Homo sapiens: one gene and its partners. The protein of the gene in region 3 purifies or fractionates together with the protein of the main gene of each other region. This does not show direct contact. Each region holds a gene or a part of one and is shown on either strand. Other genes may lie near its edges.

Region 1 (3,518 bases), on a different chromosome or scaffold from region 3:
TATTATATAATAGCATGGGTGGATAATTTAACATATTTGATATTTCTTTGCTACTTTTGAAGACATTGGCTCTTTATGGCTCACAGTTTTTAAAAATTGAGGTATAATTTACATATAAAATGCTCAGATTTTAAGTGTACAGCTTGATGATTTTTGACAAATGTATATGCCCCAATCAAGATTTAGAACATTTCCCTCTCTCCCAAAAGGCTTTCCATACCCTCCTGCAGTCAGTCTACCTCCCCACTTGCTACCCCAGACAAATGCTCATATTTCTATCACTAGATTAGTTTTGCCTGTTACAGAATTTCATATAAAAAAAATCATACAGTATGTACTCTTTTATGTCTGACTTACTCCACTCAGTATAATGCCAGATTTATCCATGTAGTTGTAGAATCACATTTTTCTTAAAATGGATTTTTTCCCCCTTAACAGTGACTTAAGTTTTTCTTCCATTTTTCTGTTTTTATTTCTTCATAAAATATTAGAATAATTGACCATAAGAAATGAATCAAGGTTACTAGTTAAATCTCCATTTCTGCGTAGCCAACTAGAATATTTTCAAATGGAATATTGAGGAAGTTACTAATTACAACTTTTGAATTTTTAATTATGTCGTTGCATTAGTAGATATTTAATACCTACAATAGGTTAAGAGTTGATCAGTTTTGCATCTATATAGCCTATATACTTTTTATTATGTGGTACGCTTTAACAGTTTTTTTTGGGACCTTATATAGTGTTGCTTTCAACCAGTGTCTAGTCTAGTGGGGAAGACAGACATGTGAACATGAATATAAAGCAAACTGAAATATGAAAAGGAAACTAATATACTGAGGATTCCTGTGTGCTCATTATACTTTATTTGATCTTCAGGATCACTCTGATGTATTATTATTCCCATTTTACAGGTCAGAAAATTGAAGCTCAGGTTAAGTAATTTGTTCAAGGCCATGTGGCTGATAAATAAGTGTCAAGATTGGGATTTGAACACAGGCCTATCTGACCTTCAAACCTATACTATTCTTCTGTCTTGCCTTGTTTTAACAGTAGCGTTACAGAATGTGAATGAAATGTAGAGAATGAAATGATTCACTTTGTTGCAGGAAAATCAAGGCAGGAATAAGCATTTAAATAACATTCAAGGCTGGTTTAGATTTAAATAGGCAAAAATAGAGGTGAAATAATTTCATTTGGGAGAGAACAGCAAGAAATACAGAATGGCATACAAGTACAAGGCATTTTTGTGGAATAATGTGGCTGGAGAAGAGGGTATATAGGAAAAAATGTTGCAGATACGGTTGTAACAGGATTGGGCCAGATTGTGGAGTACCTTAAATTTTTCGTATAAAATTTCAACTTTATATTTTCAAGTAGTTTTTGAGTAATTCGGTGATATCATCACACTTTTGGGAAGATAACTCTTGAATTGTAAAACAAAGAAAGGGAGAAATGAGAGATGAGTTTAAAAATGCTTGTTAGAAGGCTTTTTTAGTAGTTCAGGTGAGAGATCTCAACCTAGGTTGAGGTCATTGGGAATTAATGGGGAAAAATGTGAGCGATACCACAGAAATAAGTAGGACCTGGCAGCCACATTGAATATATGGGAAAGAGATGGAGTCCTGATGCAAGATCTTTTTTTTTTTTTTTTGGTCATCATTTTCCCTCATTAAAAAAATATATAATTCACACACTGTATACTTTACCCTTTTAAAGTGTACAATTCACTGTGTGTGTGCGTGTGTGTGTGTGTTTTTTTTTTTTTTTGAGACGGAGTCTCTGTCACTCAGGCTGGAGTGCGGTGGCGTGATCTCGGCTCACTGCAACTGCAACCTCCACCTCCCGGGTTCAAGCAATTCTCCTGCCTCAGCCTCCTGAGTAGCTGGGATTACAGGCACCTGCCACCATACCCAGCTAATTTTTGTATTTTTAGTAGAGACGGAGTTTCACCATGTTGATCAGGCTGGTCTCGAACCCCTGACCTTGTGATCCACCTCGCCCGGCCTCCCAAAGTGCTGGGATTACAGGCGTGAGCCGCCGCGCCCGGCCAATTCACTGGTTTTTAAGAGTTGTGCCGGCATCACCACTGTTTAGAACATTTTCCTCACCCAGAAAGAAACTGTGTACCCATTACCATCACTCCCCATTCTCCCCACCCCTAAACCCTGGCAACCACTAATTTACTTTCTGTTTCTATGGGTTTCCCTATTCTGCACATTTCATATAAATAGAATCATGCAATAGGCTTTCTTTTGTGTCTGACTTCTTTCACTTAGCATGATGTTCTCAAGATTGTAACGTGTCAGTACTCTTTATTTCTTTTTTTATTACTGAATAATATTCCATTGTATGAATGTACCATATTTTATCTATCAGTGGTAGGCATTTGGGTTTTTCCCAATTTCTGGCAATAATGCTGCTATAAATACTTGTGTATAGGTTTTTTGTGTGGATATGTTTTCATTTCCATTGGATATTCTATTGGATATGTACCTAGGATGGAAATTTCTGGTTCATATGATAACTCTGGTTTCATATATATATATATATATATATATATATATATATTTTTTTTTTTTTTTTTTTTTTTTTTTTTTTTTTTTTTGAGACGGAGTTTTACTCTTCACCCAGGCTGGAGTGCAGTGGCGTGATCTCGGCTTATTGCAATCTCTGCCTCCCTGTTTCAAGCAATTCTCCCGCCTCAGCCTCCTGAGTAGCTGGGATTACAGGCGTGTGCCACCATGCCTGGCTAATTTTGTACTTTTAGTAGAGACAGGTTTTCACCATGGTGGCCAGCCTGTTCTTGAACTCCTGACCTCAGGTGATCTGCCTGCCTCGGCCTCCCAAAGTGCTGGGATTACAGGTGTGAGCCACCACACCTGGCCTGGTTTTATTTTTTGAGGAACTGCCAGACTTTTTCAAAATGGCTGCACCATTTTGCATTCCTGTCAGCAGTGTATGAGGGTTTTGACACTTCCACATCCTGTCTAACATTTCTTTTTTATTGTAGCCATATAGAAGGTGTACAGTGGTATCTCATTGTGGCTTTGATTTGCACTTCCCTGGTGGCCAATAATGTTGGACACTTTTTTGTTTTTGGAGAAATGTATATTCATGTCATTTACCTTTTTTTAAAAAAAATTTAAAATTGAGATGGGGTCTCACTATATTGGCCAGGTTGGTCTTGAACACCTGGCCTCAAGCAATCCTCCTGCCTCAGCTTCCCAAAGTGCTGGGACTACAGGTGCAAGCCACTGTTCCCAGCCACATTTATCTCTTTTTATTTTATTTTATTTTTTGAGACAGAGTCTCGCTCTGTAGCCCAGGCTGGAGTGCAGTGGCACGAACTTGGCTCACTACAACCTCCACCTCCTGGGTTCAACCAGTTTCCCTGCTTCAGCCTCCCGAGTAGCTAGGACTACAGGTGCAGCTGGGATTACAGGCATGTGCCACTACGCCCAGCTAATTTTTGTATTTTTAGTAGAGACGGGGTTTCACTATGTTGGCCAGGCTGG
Region 2 (3,518 bases), on a different chromosome or scaffold from region 3:
TAAAAGGTGTAACCCTAAAACCAATAAATCAAGAAACAGATTAGGCAGATTACTTGGAAATTTGGAATTAAAGGCTAGAACAGACAGGTAAAAGTATGAGAGGAGGTCTCAGAGATAAGAGAAGGATGGGGAGGTGGGGAGAAGAAGACTAAAATTTTTTATCATGAGAATTATAACATTACTTTTATTATATTGACAAAAATCAAAAGTAGTTAAGAAGAACTCAAAAACTAAACTTATTATCTCCTTCCCTAAACTTGTCCTTACTTCCCTATTTTTCATCTTGGTTGGAAATACTCCCATCAACTCAAGTACTAAAGCCAGAAATCCAGGATGTATTCTTTATTTATCCATTTTTCTCTGGCCCTGCATTCCCACAGCCAATCAATCACCAACTGAATCTCCTAGATGTTCTTCAAATTCACCTTCACCTCTCTAAATCTACTCTCATGGCCTAATCCAGTTCTTTATTGTGACTTGCCTGGACTACTGCAAACCTCCAAACTAGTTTCCAACCTTGACTTTAACTCCTAATTAAATGAATCCCTCTATACTTCCCTCATGTGCTGCTGTCTCTCCTATTGAGGTGGCATCACTGTCTGGGGTAAATACCTGGGGTTCGCCATCTCATGCCAAGATTAAGGACATGGACACGCACAAGGAGTGAGTTTAGGAGCAGAGGTTTAGTAGGCAAAAGAAAGAGAAAGGAGAACACTTCTCTCTCTTGCAAGAGAGGGGCATCTGAATGGGAAATCTGGCCCTCCGTGGAGTGCACCAGATTTTATAGACAGGCTTGAGGAGGTGGTGTCTGATTTATATAGACAAAGATTGGCCCACAGATTGGCTGGACCAGGTGTGACATTTACATAGCATGCAGGGAAGCTGGCCACCTCACCCTAACCTTATTAAGCAAATGGGCTTTCCACTTGGCCAGCATTACTGTCTGTTCCCTACTGTACACATGGTTGGAAAGGAAAAGGGAAGACGGAGCTGCCATTTTGAACATGCCTAGCCCAGGTAGCCTTTTCCTATTGGCACAACTGCCGGCATTCACCTGTGCAAGCTTCCAGCTTACTTGTCTATGTGTGTAGCTCAATTTTATAGGCAGGCTGCTCTTTGTTAGAAAAGAAAATGATTTGGGGTCTGCTTTTCATTAAAAGGAAAACCTTACCGAGGACTCCTGTACTCTCACTATCTGCCCAAATAATTTCTTCTTAACGCCTATATCACTATTTTGGGAGGTCATAGAATTTATAGCATTTAAAAATTTGTTATGCAGCAATAGATAACCAATACAGAGGCAGGAGAAAAGCATAAGTAGGAAGTGGAGAAATAGGATGGAATCTAGAGAAGTCAGTAGAGAGCTGATCAGGGAGAGTTTTCTAGATATGCTAAGAATCTTTATCCTCTAGTGACTAGGAACTACTGAAGGGCTTGATAATTTGAAAAGAGTACTATGAACATCAATGTAAGGATGGACTTAAGCCAGAAAGACAGCAGGCAGGAAGGCCAGTTAATATGTTTCACAATAATCTAGAATAAAGATGACAGGAGTTTGAACTAGGGCTGGAAACTAGTAATAATAGCGTGGAGAGGGCAGACTTAAAAATAATTAGAAGGTTGACTGGGAGCAGTGGCTCACGCCTGTAATCCCAGCACTTTGGGAGGCCAAGGTGGGTAAGATCACCAGAGGTCAGGAGTTCCAGACCAGCCTGGCCAACATGACAAAACCCTGTCTCTACAAAAAAATACAAAAATTAGCCAGGCTTGGTGGTATGTGCCTGTAATCCCAGCTATTCAGGAGGCTGAGGTGGGAGGATCACTTGAACACCGGAGGCAGAGGTTGCAGTGATCCAAGACCACGCTGCTGCACTCCAGCCTGGGCAAAAGAGCGAGACTACGTCTCCAAATAATAATAATAAGAAGAAGAAGAAGAAAGTAAAACTGGAAGAAACTTGTGATTATATATTAGAGTTGAAATAGAACAAAGAATCTAGGATGATCCCAGATGTGACTTAGATGGCTGGGTGGGTGGACAGTGGTGCCATTAACCGAGAAAGAGAGAGACCCAGATCCCTGGGAGTGAAAATCAGCTCTGCTGCTAATCAGTCTAAGATGCTCCCAACAGAACATTAACAATGTTTCTATATACCCAAGGCCACTCTGCAGCTGCAGTATGATGGACAGTCCTTTTTTCTGAGCAACTGCTGTATTCTTACCAATGATAGCGCTTTGTCCCTCCCATCTCCTGAACAGAGACTGCTGAGAGTCTAAGTTCCTGAGCTGCCACGGGCACTTGGCAGCAGCTAATCCAGCGGGTACCTCTTCCCTGATCCCTCCTTCGACTCATTCAGCACAAGGCCAAATATTTCAGAGGCCTCTTCCCACTTCTCCCAACCTTTGGGTATGTGTCCTCCTTTGCTGGACATAATGCTAACACACCTAACTTTGTGTCATTACACATGTATTTCTCATATTCTCTGCTGAGTGGGTTTCAACTTCCATCCCACTTGAAAGGTGTGCTGAGAAAAGGTAGAAGGAGACTAAAAAATAGGGAGAAAAGAGACAATAAAGCCAGACCGTAGAGGATGGCTGCGGGCTCCCTATAGTACATTACATTCTAAGACGAGCAGGAAAGGCTCTGCCACAATTCCTGAATGTACAAGGTCAAAAGTTCCAGCCTTCACTTTGCCAACAGGTATATCCTTGGGCAAGCCAATTCACTTCTCCCCTTGGACTTCAGTTCCTTCATTTGTAAATTCTGGAGATTAGATGGACTATATAATTCCCAAAATCCCTTTCAGCTTGGAATGTCTAAGATTCTAAAAATGCAGCCAAGGAGATCAGGCTAAAACTGCTTCAGGCTTTGAGTCACAGGGATGATTCACGCAGGCTACCTTAATGAAAGAACTTCCACATCTGCTCTAGGTGCCCTGAACCTACACATTTCTGTCAGTGTTCGTAAGACAACCTAAGAAACCTAAGAAAGGCTATTCTTGGGGGGGCAGGGGGGCTACAACACTGATTAAATTACATGTTTTTTAAGCACAGATTTTTTAAAAATCCTATTAAAATTCTAAATCAGTGGCTTCCAGCAATTTTTCTCTGAAACAGACGTCTCGGATTTTGCAGACACCAATGTTCAGGCACACGTGTACACAAGAATGGTGGAAAGAGTCATGGTTTTACATGGAGTGTGCAGTCTGCCAGCTCAGAAATCTCCTGTGTCCCAACGGCACAGGCGGTTCATTCTCCTGCCAGCCAAGTTAATTCTACCAACATGCCAATAGTTAGAAGGGGAGAAAACAAAACAAAACAAATTATTTCCACTTGACTTGCTGATTGCTAATAATATTCTTCATCAAGTAACCCAGGCAGGAACACTTTTCATCTTCAGAATTAGCTATGGCTGCCATTTCCCCTTTTGTCAAATACAGGGAGATATTTCCCACGGTCTGCACATGACTCAGAATGGCTTCATCTTTATTTCACGTTCTACATTTCTTGTTGCTTGACTT
Region 3 (3,518 bases):
CAAATGTAAAAGAACAGAAATTATAACAAACTGTCTCTCAGACCACAGTGAAATCAAACTAGAACTCAGGATTAAGAAACTCACTCAAAACCGCTCAACTACATGGAAACTGAACAACCTGCTCCTGAATGACTACTGGGTACATAACGAAATGAAGGCAGAAATAAAGATGTTCTTTGAAACCAATGAGAACAAAGACACAACATACCAGAATCTCTGGGACACATTCAAAGCAGTGTGTAGAGGGAAATTTATAGCACTAAATGCCCACAAGAGAAAGCAGGAAAGATCTTAAATTGACACCCTAACATCACAATTAAAAGAACTAGAGAAGCAAGAGCAAATACATTCAAAAGGTAGCAGAATGCAAGAAATAACTAAGATCAGAGCAGAACTGAAGGAAATAGAGACACAAAAAACCCTTCAAAAAATCAATGAATCCAGGAGCTGGTTTTTTGAAAAGAACAACAAAATTGATAGACCACTAGCAAGACTAATAAAGAAGAAAAGAGAGAAGAATCAAATAGACACAATAAAAAATGATAAAGGGGATATCACCACTGATCCCACAGAAATACAAACTACCATCAGAGAATACTATAAACACCTCTACGCAAATAAACTAGAAAATCTAGAAGAAATGGACAAATTCCTCGACACATACACCCTCCCATGTCTAAAATGATTTTCTGATTTTGTAAAAATCAAAATAAACAAAGTAAGTATTCAGTCAATGAAAGAGTGGAAAGGATCTAAAATATTCCTTAAATCCTGAAAGTAGGAAAAAGAAGGAAATAAAAGTGAAAATTAAGAAGAAACAGAAATAAACTGCAGAAGGGATAAACAAACCAAAAACACGTTCTTTGAAACGACCAAATGTAAATTAGTACAGCCATTATAGAAAAACAGTAGAAAAGTTCCTAAAAAAATTAAAAATAGAACTACTATATAATCCAGCAATGCCACTGCTGGGTATGTATCCAAAAGAAAGGATATCAATATACCGAGGAAATATCTATGCTCTCATGTTTATCACAGCATTATTCACAATAACCAAAATATGAAATCAACCTAAATGCCCATCAGTGGATTAATGTATAAAGGAAATGTGGCATATATACACGATGTTATATTATTCAGCCATAAAAAAATGAAATCCTGTCATCTGCAGAAACATGGATGGAACTGGAGGATATTATGTTAAGTGAAATAAGATTATTTTCCCTCATACATGGGAGCTGAAAGGTGGATTTCATAAAGATAGAGAGTAGAATGGTGATTATCAGTGGCTCAGAAAGAAAGGCTCAGGTCAATGGAGAGGGGCTGGTTAATAGGTACAAAAACACAGTTAGAAGGAATAAGATTTAGTTTGTGATAGGACAGTAGGGAAATTAGAGTTAATAATAATTTATTGTATATCTCAAAATAGCTAAAAAAAATATTTGGAATGTTCCCAACACAAAGAAAAGATGAGCATTTGAGGTGATGAATATCGCAATTACCCTGATTTGATCATTACACATTGTATACAGGTATCAAAATATCACATGTACCTTAAAAATATGTATAATGATTATATATACATAAAAAAGATCAATACTCCCTGATAAGCCTGATTAAAAGATTAAAGTGAGAAAATAAAAATATATGAAATATTATGAACCCAAAAGAAGAGAGATAACTACAATTATGGAAGATATGATAATTAGAAAATATTATGTGTAGATATATAGCATTAAATTAAAAATCCAGAGGAAATGAACAATTTCCCAGAAAAATAGAAATTATCAAAAGTAATGTACAAAGAGGCAGAAATGTACAGAATCTAAAGAAAACTCTACCATTTTCCTGAAGCATACAGAACAAGATTTTGATGAAAGGAGAGCAGAGCCTTGTCTTAAATGTGAAAACTTAATAACAATGCCAAGCCGTTACATATTAAAAAATTTAATATAATGCCAATCAGAATCCAAATGGGCTTTCTATGCCAGTTTTTACGGCAGTGTTTTTAAACCTAGAATAAATAAATTTGATATTCATATCAAAGAATAAACATCTAAGAACTGCTAAGAAGCAATGATAAGAGTGAATAAGAATTGATTGTACCAGGCATTAAATCTTTCTCAAAATCTACTGTAATTGAAACAGCATAGTCTTGATACAAGAAATGACAAACAGAAGAGTGGAACAGAATAGAAAGTTTAAAAACACATCTAAGTATATATGCAGAGTTACTATATATGAAAAATGGCATTTAAACTGTGTGGAAAATAAATGATTTATTTAATAAATGATGCAGATGCAACTGACTATCCACCTTGAAGAAAAAAATGAGGTCCCCTTTCTCACATCATATAAAAATGTAAATTCCGGATGGATTACTGTTCTAAAAATAAACCAAAAATATATTTTTAATCAGGAAATTTTATAGTTTGGATGGCAAGAGATCTTAAGCAAGATGAAACTAGGGGCCAAAAAAGGAATAATAGATACATTTTTCAAAGTAAAAATTTAAATATTTATAGAAGTAGGCAATATAAACAAACTCAAAAGACAAAAAACAGACTGGTGAAAACGTGAAATTCGTGACTGACAAAGTGTCACATCAACAATATAGAGTCCTTCCAAATTTATGTTAAAAGAATGAGTAAAGGGTATGAGGCAATTCACAAAAGAAATGAAAATAGCCATTAAGCATATGAAAAAAAAAAGGTTCCAACACTTTTTTTCAATTTACTAGTTGAGAAATGGCAAACTGAAACAAATAGATACTATCCAGTGCTGGTGAGGCTATGCGGAAGTGGGTACTCATAAAATTATGCTAGGAGTATAGATTCTACAAATCTTTCAGAATTTAATATGCAAGTATGTATTAAAACTGTTCACATCCTAACATTCAGTCATTCCACTTTAGGGTACAGATCCTACAGGAATAAAAGCATCAGTAAGTAACAATCAGATACGTACATGGATATTTATTGCAGCAATATCTGTAGTGGGAAATAAAGCTAAATATAAAATGAATGTCTAGCAAAAAACGAACAGTCAGCCCTCTGTAACCATGGGTTCCACATCTGGATTCAATCAACTGTGGATCAAAAATATGCAGAAAAAAGCGGCTGGTTGCTTCTTTACTGAACACATATGGATTTTTGCCTTGTTTTTATTCCCTAAACAATACAGTATAACAATTATTTACATAGCATTTACATTGTGTTAGGTATTATAAATAATCTAGAAATGATTGAAAGTATATGGAGGATGTACATAGGTTATATGTAAATACTATATCATTTTATATAAGGGATTTGAGCATCCATGGATTTTGATATGCACGGGAGTCCTGGAACCAATATCCCGTGCATACCAAGAGATGACTGTGGTTATTACATAATATTATGGAATGTTATACAGCTGTTTATAAGAAAAGTGTGATGAATTTATTGATGTGCCCATTCGACTAGACTGTAGTCCTCACTAATGTAGGTGTTGCCATGAAGGTATTTTACAGATATAAT
Region 4 (3,518 bases), on a different chromosome or scaffold from region 3:
CAACATCCCATTAGAGGCAACCCATGACCCTGACAGGCAGGCTGTGGAAATAAAAAGTGTGTCATAGAGCAACCTGCAAGAAATTCATGCTGTAACTGGGAAAGAGAAGACAATATAGACAGGCTTTTCATCTGGTACCAAAACAACTCACTGTAATTAGCAGATGCAGTTTTGAAATGGGCATAAAGTTGGGGCTTGCTACTGTAAATACTCCTTGATTTCTTCCTAAGTGAATTGTTTCTTTATATTGCTTGTTAGACACCACTCCCATTTCTTCCATCTCAAGTATAGAAAGCAAGCCCCTGAGAGTGACCATGAGGCGGCGAGGGAATGCATCCTAGGTGAGGGCTTAGCAAGGCAAAGGCAGGCTCTGTTGCTGTTACCCTGGGCTTTTCAAAGGTGAATGAAATCCCACAAATCTTGGTCATTAGTTAAGGGAAATGGAGACCCAAAGGCAGAAACCGATGCCCATGGTCAGGCTAAAGAGCCGTGGGGAGAGTCGAAGTCTGCCGCTCAACCTGAGCAGTGGCTCACTCCCCCGGGGTGACTCACCATGGAGACACCCGCCTCCCCATCCTCCATCCCTCTCTTGTGCCCCTCTCTTCTCGATTAGTTCTGCCAGCTCTATGCTTGGTCATGAGTTCACTGAAGGTTTGGGATCCCTGCCCATCACTACACAGATGAGCTTCTAGGAGACGACCCCATGGCCCTGGGCCTAGGCTGATGAGCAAGACAACCAAGTCCCAGGGTTTCACCCTAGCCTTCTTCAAATGCTGAATCCTCTTGCAGTGGATACACCTGAGCTCGTTTTAATCAGGTGGCCCAGAAGGTGCAAAGAAAGACTCCTTTTCATTCCCAGAGGAGAGACTAGCAACTCTTCCAGAAATAATGAGGCCACTCAGGAGAAGGGAAAGAAAACAAAAGCTCACCTTTAAGATCCGATTTTGGTTCTTCTCCTTCACATAAGAAAACATGATCCTGCAACAAGGCAAACCACCAAATCAGGACTCACTCAGAAAATTTTACCCTCATTCAAATGGACAATGAAAATCAGGACCATATAACCTTTTAATTTACAAAAATGCTTGTATATCTGACCTCAGGACCCCCCCAATCCTCTACAGACTATTCTGAAACAAACCTGATATTTCATTTATCCATACATATTTCAAGATGTAGCTCTTAAAACATCCTTTAAAAAATAACAGTAGCACCCTCAAAACTGCGAATATTAATGATTCCTTAAATATCAAAGTCAATTTTTTTTTTTTTTTTGGAGACAAGAGTCTTGTTCAGTCATTCAGGCTAGAGTGCGGTGGCATGATCTTGGCTCACTGCAGCCTCTGCCTCCTGGGCTGAAGCGATCCTCACATCTCAGCCTCCCGAGTAGTGGGGACTACAGGCGTGAGCCACCACACCTGGCTAATTTTTCTATTTTTTGTAGAGACAGGGTTTTGCCACGTTGCCCAGCTCATCTCAAACTCCTGGACTCAAGTGATCTGCGTGCCTCAGCCTCCCAAAGTGCTGGGATTATAGGCGTGAGCCACTGTGCCCAGCCTCAAAGTCAAATTTTTAAATACTGGCATAATATTTCATCCATGCTGTAATATTTCATCCATAATAATTTCATCCATGCTGTAGCGTGTGTCAATGCTCCATTCCTTTCTATGGCTGAGTAATATTCCATTGTATGGACAGACCACATGTTGTTTACCCATTCATCTGTTGATGGACAAATGAGTCATTCCCGCCCTTGGGCTACTGTGAATAATCCTGGTGCAAGGATCTAGTGTTTGACTCCTTGTTTTCAAATCTTGTGAGTACGTACTTAAGAGTGGAATTATTCGGTCATATGGTAATCCTGTTTAACTCTGAGGAACTGGCAGTATCCACAGCCACTGCACCATCTTCCAATCCCACTAGCAATGCACGAGGGCTCCAGTTTCTCTGCATCCTCACCAACTCGTATTTTCCATTTTTACATCACACCATCCGAACAGGCATGCACTGGCATCTCACGGGTTTCTGATGTGCATGTCCCCAGTTATTAATAACACTGACCATCTTTTCGGGTGGTTTTTGGCTGCTTGTATCTCTTCTTTGGAGAAATGTATATTCAAGTCCACTACCATTTTTGAATTGGGTTTGTTATTTCGTTGTTGAGTTGTAGGCATTCTTTATGTATTCTGGATAGTAACTCCTTATCAGAAATGATTTGCAAATATTTCCTCCCATTCTGCGAGTTATCTTTTCACTTTTTTTTTTTTTTGACACGGAGTCTCACTCTGTTGCCCAGGCTGGAGTGCAGTGGCGCAATCTCGGCTCACTGCGCCCTTTGCCTTCTGGGTTCAAGCAATTCTCTTGCCTCAGCCTCCAGAGTAGCTGGGAGTACAGGCGCCCAGCTACTTTTTTTGTATTTTTAGTAGAGACGGGGTTTCACCATGTTAGCCAGGATGGTCTTGATCTGACCTCGTGATCCGCCTGCCTCAGCCTCCCAAATTGCTGGGATTACAGGTGTGAGCCACTGTGCCCAGGCTTTTTTGTTTGTTTTTTGTTTTTTTGAGACAGAGTCTCATTCTGTCACTCAGGTTGGAGTGCAATGGCGCAGTCTCAACTCATTGCAACCTCAGCCTCCCAGGTTCAGTTGATTCTTCTGCCTCAGTCTTCCGAGTACCTGGGATTACAGGCATCCACCATCATGCCCGGCTAGTTTTCGTATTTTTAGTAGACATGGGGTTTCACCATGTTGGCTAGGCTGGTCTCGAACTCTTGACCTCAGGTGATCTGCCCACCTCGGCCTCCCAAAGTGATGGGATTACAGGTGTTAGCCACTGTGCCTGGCCTGTTTTCATTCTTTATAGTGTCCTTTGATGCACAGAAGTTTATAACTTTAATGAAGACCTATTTATTTACTTATTTTTTCAGACAGTCTTGCTTGTTGCCCATGCTGGAGTGCAGTTGCATGATCTTAGCTCACTGCAACCTCTGCCTCCTGGGCTCAAGTGATCCTCCCAACTCAGCCTCCTGAACAGCTGGGACCACAGGTGTGCACCACCATGCCCGGGTAATTTTTTGTATTTTTGTGGAGAAGGGGTTTTGTCATGCTGCCCAGGCTGGTCTCAAAATCCTAGGCTCAAGCAATCTGCCTGCTTCAGCCTCCCAAAGTGCTGGGGTTATAGGCATGAGCCACTATGCCTAGGCTTTTTATAATTTTTTTGAGACAGGATCTCATTCTGTCACCCAGGCTGGAGTGCAAATGGCAAAATCACTGCTCTCTGCAGCCTTGAACAACTGGGCTCAAGCAATCTTCCCACCTCAGCCTCCCAGGTAACTAGGACCACAGGTGCACGCAACCATACGCAACTGATTTTTTTTTTTTTTTTTGGGACGGAGTTTCGCTCTTGTTGCCCAGGCTGGAGTGCAATAGCACGATCTCAGCTCACTGCAACCTCCACCTCCTGGGTTCAAGCGATTCTCCTGCCTCAGCCTCCCGAGTAGCTGAGATTACAAGCATGTGC
Region 5 (4,302 bases), on a different chromosome or scaffold from region 3:
TTTTATACTTTTCTCACTGTTCTTTATTCCCCTTTTACCAAGTTTCCCTACACAAACAAAAACGGAAGCCCTCCGCAGTTATCTATCCTTTTTTCACAGAGTACCTTGGGCTGCTGATCTCTACATCTCTGTCTCAAATACAGATCTATTCACAGAATCGCTTGGGTTATGAAATCTCTCTAAGGCCAGGCAAGGTGGCTCACACCTGTAATCCCAGCACTTTGGGAGGCCGAGGCAGGTGGATCACCTGAGATAAGGAGTTTGAGACTAGCCTGGCCAACGTGGTGAAACCCTGTATCTACTAAAAATACAAAAATTAGGCCAGGCACAGTGGCTCACACCTGTAATCCCAGCACTTTGGGAGGCCGAGGCAGGCAGATTACGAGGTCAGGAGATTGAGACCATCCTGGCTAACATGGTGAAACCCCATCTCTATTAAAAATACAAAAAAACTAGCCGGGTGTGGTGGCATGCGCCTGTAGTCCCAGCTACTTGGGAGGCTGAGGCAGGAGAATTGCTTGAACCCAGGAGGCGGAGGTTGCAGTGAGCCGAGAGCGCACCATTGCACTCCAGCCTAGGTAACAAAGTGAGATGCCATCTCAAAAAAAAAATACAAAAATTAGCCGGGTGTGGTGGCAGATCCCTATAATCCCAGCTACTCAAGAGACTGAGGTAGGAGAATTGCTTGAACAGGGGAGGCAGAAGTTGCAGTGAGCTGAAATCGCGCCACTGCACTCCAGCCTGGGCGACAGAGTGAGACTCCGTCTCAAAAAAAAAAAACAAAAACAAAAACAAAAAAAACAACTCTATAGTCAATTTTGCTTCCTAACTTTGCCCATAGCAAAGAAAATTAAGTATGTCAAAGGGCATTTAAATATCCCTCCTCTTTCTCCCAGGAACTCAAAGAGAATTAGGGAAGAGACACAGAAAAAGCTGAAGGAAAATTAACCAGGAGATGTAGATGAGCCCTGAACATCTCCTGGTAACTAAAGAAATGAAATGAAGGACTCTCTCACATAATCCTGGACAAACTTAATTGCAATAAATTAATTTTATCAAGGTTGGAATACACAGATTTATGCATAAGGTTGGCCAAATAAACCCTATTCAGATAATTTGAAAGTCTAAACAAATTTACCAACCTAGTTGAATACAATCCAGTTTTTCATACCCGCAATTTTGTAGTCAATTCAGATAGTGCCTTCCTGCCTACTCAATTCAACAGGTATTTAGTGGGTGATTCCTATGCACTAGGATTGTTTCAGTCCCTGTCTAACCAAACTCTGGTTATCAAGAATTAGACAAGGGTGGCTTTGTGAAGCACAGAAACACAAACTGGCTCTTGAACTCCCTCACCTCTAAATTGTCCAGACACCTAGAATACAAAACAGTAGAGCACCCAGATGGTGTCCTATCTTGCTCTGATTCTCACTTGCCAATTTCAAACCATGTTTTTGTCCCCAAACATACCAAAAAACGTTTGAGTACATCATATATCTGTACACCCATAATATCTCATGCCAATCTGAGCACAGTACCCTCAAAGGTCAACTAAATGGCTGAGTTAGCTGACAGCCACATAATTTTGATCCAAGAATGCCAGCTTAATACTGAACTGACTCACCCAAACCAACCAGGGGGACTCAAGTCTGACGTGGGGGTGATGTAATACACTAAGGCCACAATACAAGAATATCCTTACTACAGCAGCAAGTAGTCCTATTTTTGACAACATTTGATGAGTGAGAGAAATTCAAAGAGAGGCCACAGGATGTCAAGAAAAGGTAAGGGTGAAGCAGGAAGTAAACCAAGAGCTGGTCTTAAAGCAAAATCCAGGAGTCAAAAATCCTCTTCTATCCTAAGTAGGCCTGATTTGGGGGGAGTCCATGTTACTGAACTACTAGAAAATTATATGTGGAAAACCAGACGTTATATGTCAAGAAAATAGGGGGTAAACCAATTCTACATTATAACCTGGTTTGGTTTTCCTTCCCCCCTCCAATCTATAAATGTTGAGAAAGGAAATGAGAAAGGGAATAATATCTGGTGATTCCATACAAAAAGAGAGCTGGACAAATATGGATAACATATAATGAATTTTAAATCCCAAATAGAAGACAACTCCAAGTGGACTTAAACTCTCCCTCAATTATGTTCTCACACCATCTAATTATCTTCCTGTTTTAGACAACAGTTTTGAAATGTACTTATTTGTGACTACCTCTGTTTTCCTCCATCAAACGCCACACTTCCTGAGGGCATGGCTACTGTATCACCCATTTCTCGAAATTTATCTAGATTCTGGGCCTCAGTTTCCTCCTCCTTCCTCCTTCCTCAGTTTCTGTCAAGAGGGACCAAGAATAGCACCAACTACATTGGCTTGGCGAGGAAATTAAATGAGAACGGGCATGCAGGGTGCTTAGTTCAGTCAATGTTTATAACCTGTTAGCATGGTAATAACAATAATTATCGTTACCGTTATTAGCCGACAGCCTCCCGCAACTCTTTTTTTCCTCCGTTTCCCGGACGGACTTCACAGCAAAATCCTGTCGCCAAGAGAAGCGTGGCCCGAAGCCCCTGCTCGCACCCTGCCCCGCCTAGGCGGCGACCGAGCACCGCAACCGCCTCAGAAGCCAGGCCTAGCGGCGCGAACGGCGCTAGGGGCTGGAAGGTGAACTTCAGCCGTTCCAAACTCCGGGAGGAGGGAGACCCGCGCCCTAGCTGCTCCCTCTTTTCTTCCCACGGCTCACCTAGCCTCGCCTCAGATCTGACAACGAAGCGCGAGCCAACCCGCCGCGGGACTCATTCAGTATCGTTGAAATTTTGAACCCAGGCAGCCTAGTCGAATGCACCAATCAGAGCGCCGGGAAAGCAATTCCAGGCTCCCGATTGGCCCTACAGACCGCAGCAATACCGGAAGTCAGAAGGAGGTACCAGCGAACAACGCGGCCCGGAGTTCCTGGGAAGTGTAGTCTCCTGCGCCTGCGTGAGTCCACTGGAACAGCTCTTAGGAGTACGTTATTACAAAGACCGGAGTGCTCTGCTCCAAACTATTTGGGAAAGGTGGTACCAACTGAAGAGGTGGAGAGTCAACCTAGATCACAGAATGGCGCGCATCCTGGACCTCTCCAAGTTTTCAGGGAAGAAAACTCTATTTTTAAAAATTATTCTCGTTATGGTTGTGCATTATCCCTTGAAGGTTCAGGGAGTTCACTTCGTCTTAACATGGAGTCGCCTGCATGCAACATAGACTCGCCCGTAGCGTCCTTCCCAATAGTGCAGGAGTCTTTGAAACCTTTTACCCAGTCCCTGCCCTGATCTTATGAAACCCGCGGTTCGTTGGGAGCTTTATCCGGTTTTATTCCCAACTGCATCCCGGCTTTATGATCCCCATGTCGTAAAAAGAAAACAAAGTCTAGGAGAAGTTGAACAAACATGTCCAAAATCACATAATAAATGGAGAAGATGGGATTCGAATTAAGAAGGTCTGTTCTTTTTATACACCACCGATAATTAATTAGAGGCCGGGCTTCGTGGCGCTCACCTATAATCCCAGCTCCACAGGAGGCTAAAGCAGAAGGATCCCTTGAGACCAAGAGTTCCAGAACAGCGTAGACATCATAACGAGACCACCCCCACCATCTTAATTTTTTTTAATCAATTAGAAAATAGCAGCAACAAGAACAACAAAACAACCCCCTTCATAATACCAGCAAAAGCTAAAGATTCAAAAATTAAGCCTAGGCTGGGTGCGGTAGCTCACGCATGTAATCCCAGCACTTTGGGAGGCCGAGACAGGCAGATCACTTGAGGCGATGAGTTCGAGACCAGCCTGGCCAAAATGTTGAAACCCCCCCCCATCTCTACTAAAAATACAAAAATTAGCCGGGCGTGCTCGCGCGTGCCTGTAATCACAGCTACTTGGGAGGTTGAGGCAGGAGAATCACTTGAACCCAGGAGGCGGAGGTTGCAGTGAGCCAAGATTGCACCACTGCACTCCAGCCTGGGCAACAGAGCGAGACTCTGTCTCAAAACAAAAAAAAAAAGGTCAAGGCAATTCCAATGAAAGTCCCAGTGGGTTCTGTTCTGGAATTTGCCAAGTTAATTCTAAAGTTCCTATGGAAGAGTACAAGTACTGGCATCTTGAATTTTGAAAAAGATTGGGGGATTTATGTACAGATTTTGTACATATTAACATGAAATTATAGTAATTTTTAAAGTATGGTTCAGTTAATTCACACCCATGGGGGTGCAATCGGCAAAATCCAGACAGGAAAACCACAGGACAATTTAGTTCCTTCA

Evidence for each region.
Region 1: the proteins of ARHGEF9 (region 3) and NSRP1 purify together in Homo sapiens (affinity purification with mass spectrometry, with the first as the bait; one large-scale study listed by BioGRID). This does not show direct contact.
Region 2: the proteins of ARHGEF9 (region 3) and CPVL purify together in Homo sapiens (affinity purification with mass spectrometry; one large-scale study listed by BioGRID and IntAct). This does not show direct contact.
Region 4: the proteins of ARHGEF9 (region 3) and JPT2 purify together in Homo sapiens (affinity purification with mass spectrometry, with the first as the bait; one large-scale study listed by BioGRID). This does not show direct contact.
Region 5: the proteins of ARHGEF9 (region 3) and TPX2 purify together in Homo sapiens (affinity purification with mass spectrometry, with the first as the bait; one large-scale study listed by BioGRID). This does not show direct contact.

The regions. Positions count from the first base shown.
Region 1 is NC_000017.11:30,119,816-30,123,333, forward strand, and holds part of NSRP1 (nuclear speckle splicing regulatory protein 1), read left to right. Parts: intron 1-3,518. UniProt on the Homo sapiens protein: RNA-binding protein that mediates pre-mRNA alternative splicing regulation.
Region 2 is NC_000007.14:29,136,534-29,140,051, forward strand, and holds part of CPVL (probable serine carboxypeptidase CPVL isoform b precursor), read right to left. Parts: intron 1-3,518. UniProt on the Homo sapiens protein: May be involved in the digestion of phagocytosed particles in the lysosome, participation in an inflammatory protease cascade, and trimming of peptides for antigen presentation.
Region 3 is NC_000023.11:63,649,205-63,652,722, forward strand, and holds part of ARHGEF9 (rho guanine nucleotide exchange factor 9), read right to left. Parts: intron 1-3,518. UniProt on the Homo sapiens protein: Acts as a guanine nucleotide exchange factor (GEF) for CDC42. Promotes formation of GPHN clusters.
Region 4 is NC_000016.10:1,695,272-1,698,789, reverse strand, and holds part of JPT2 (jupiter microtubule associated homolog 2), read right to left. Parts: intron 979-3,518; coding exon 930-978; intron 1-929. UniProt on the Homo sapiens protein: Nicotinic acid adenine dinucleotide phosphate (NAADP) binding protein required for NAADP-evoked intracellular calcium release. Confers NAADP-sensitivity to the two pore channels (TPCs) complex.
Region 5 is NC_000020.11:31,737,796-31,742,097, reverse strand, and holds the start of TPX2 (targeting protein for Xklp2), read right to left. Parts: upstream 2,809-4,302; 5' UTR 2,477-2,808; intron 1-2,476. UniProt on the Homo sapiens protein: Spindle assembly factor required for normal assembly of mitotic spindles. Required for normal assembly of microtubules during apoptosis. Required for chromatin and/or kinetochore dependent microtubule nucleation.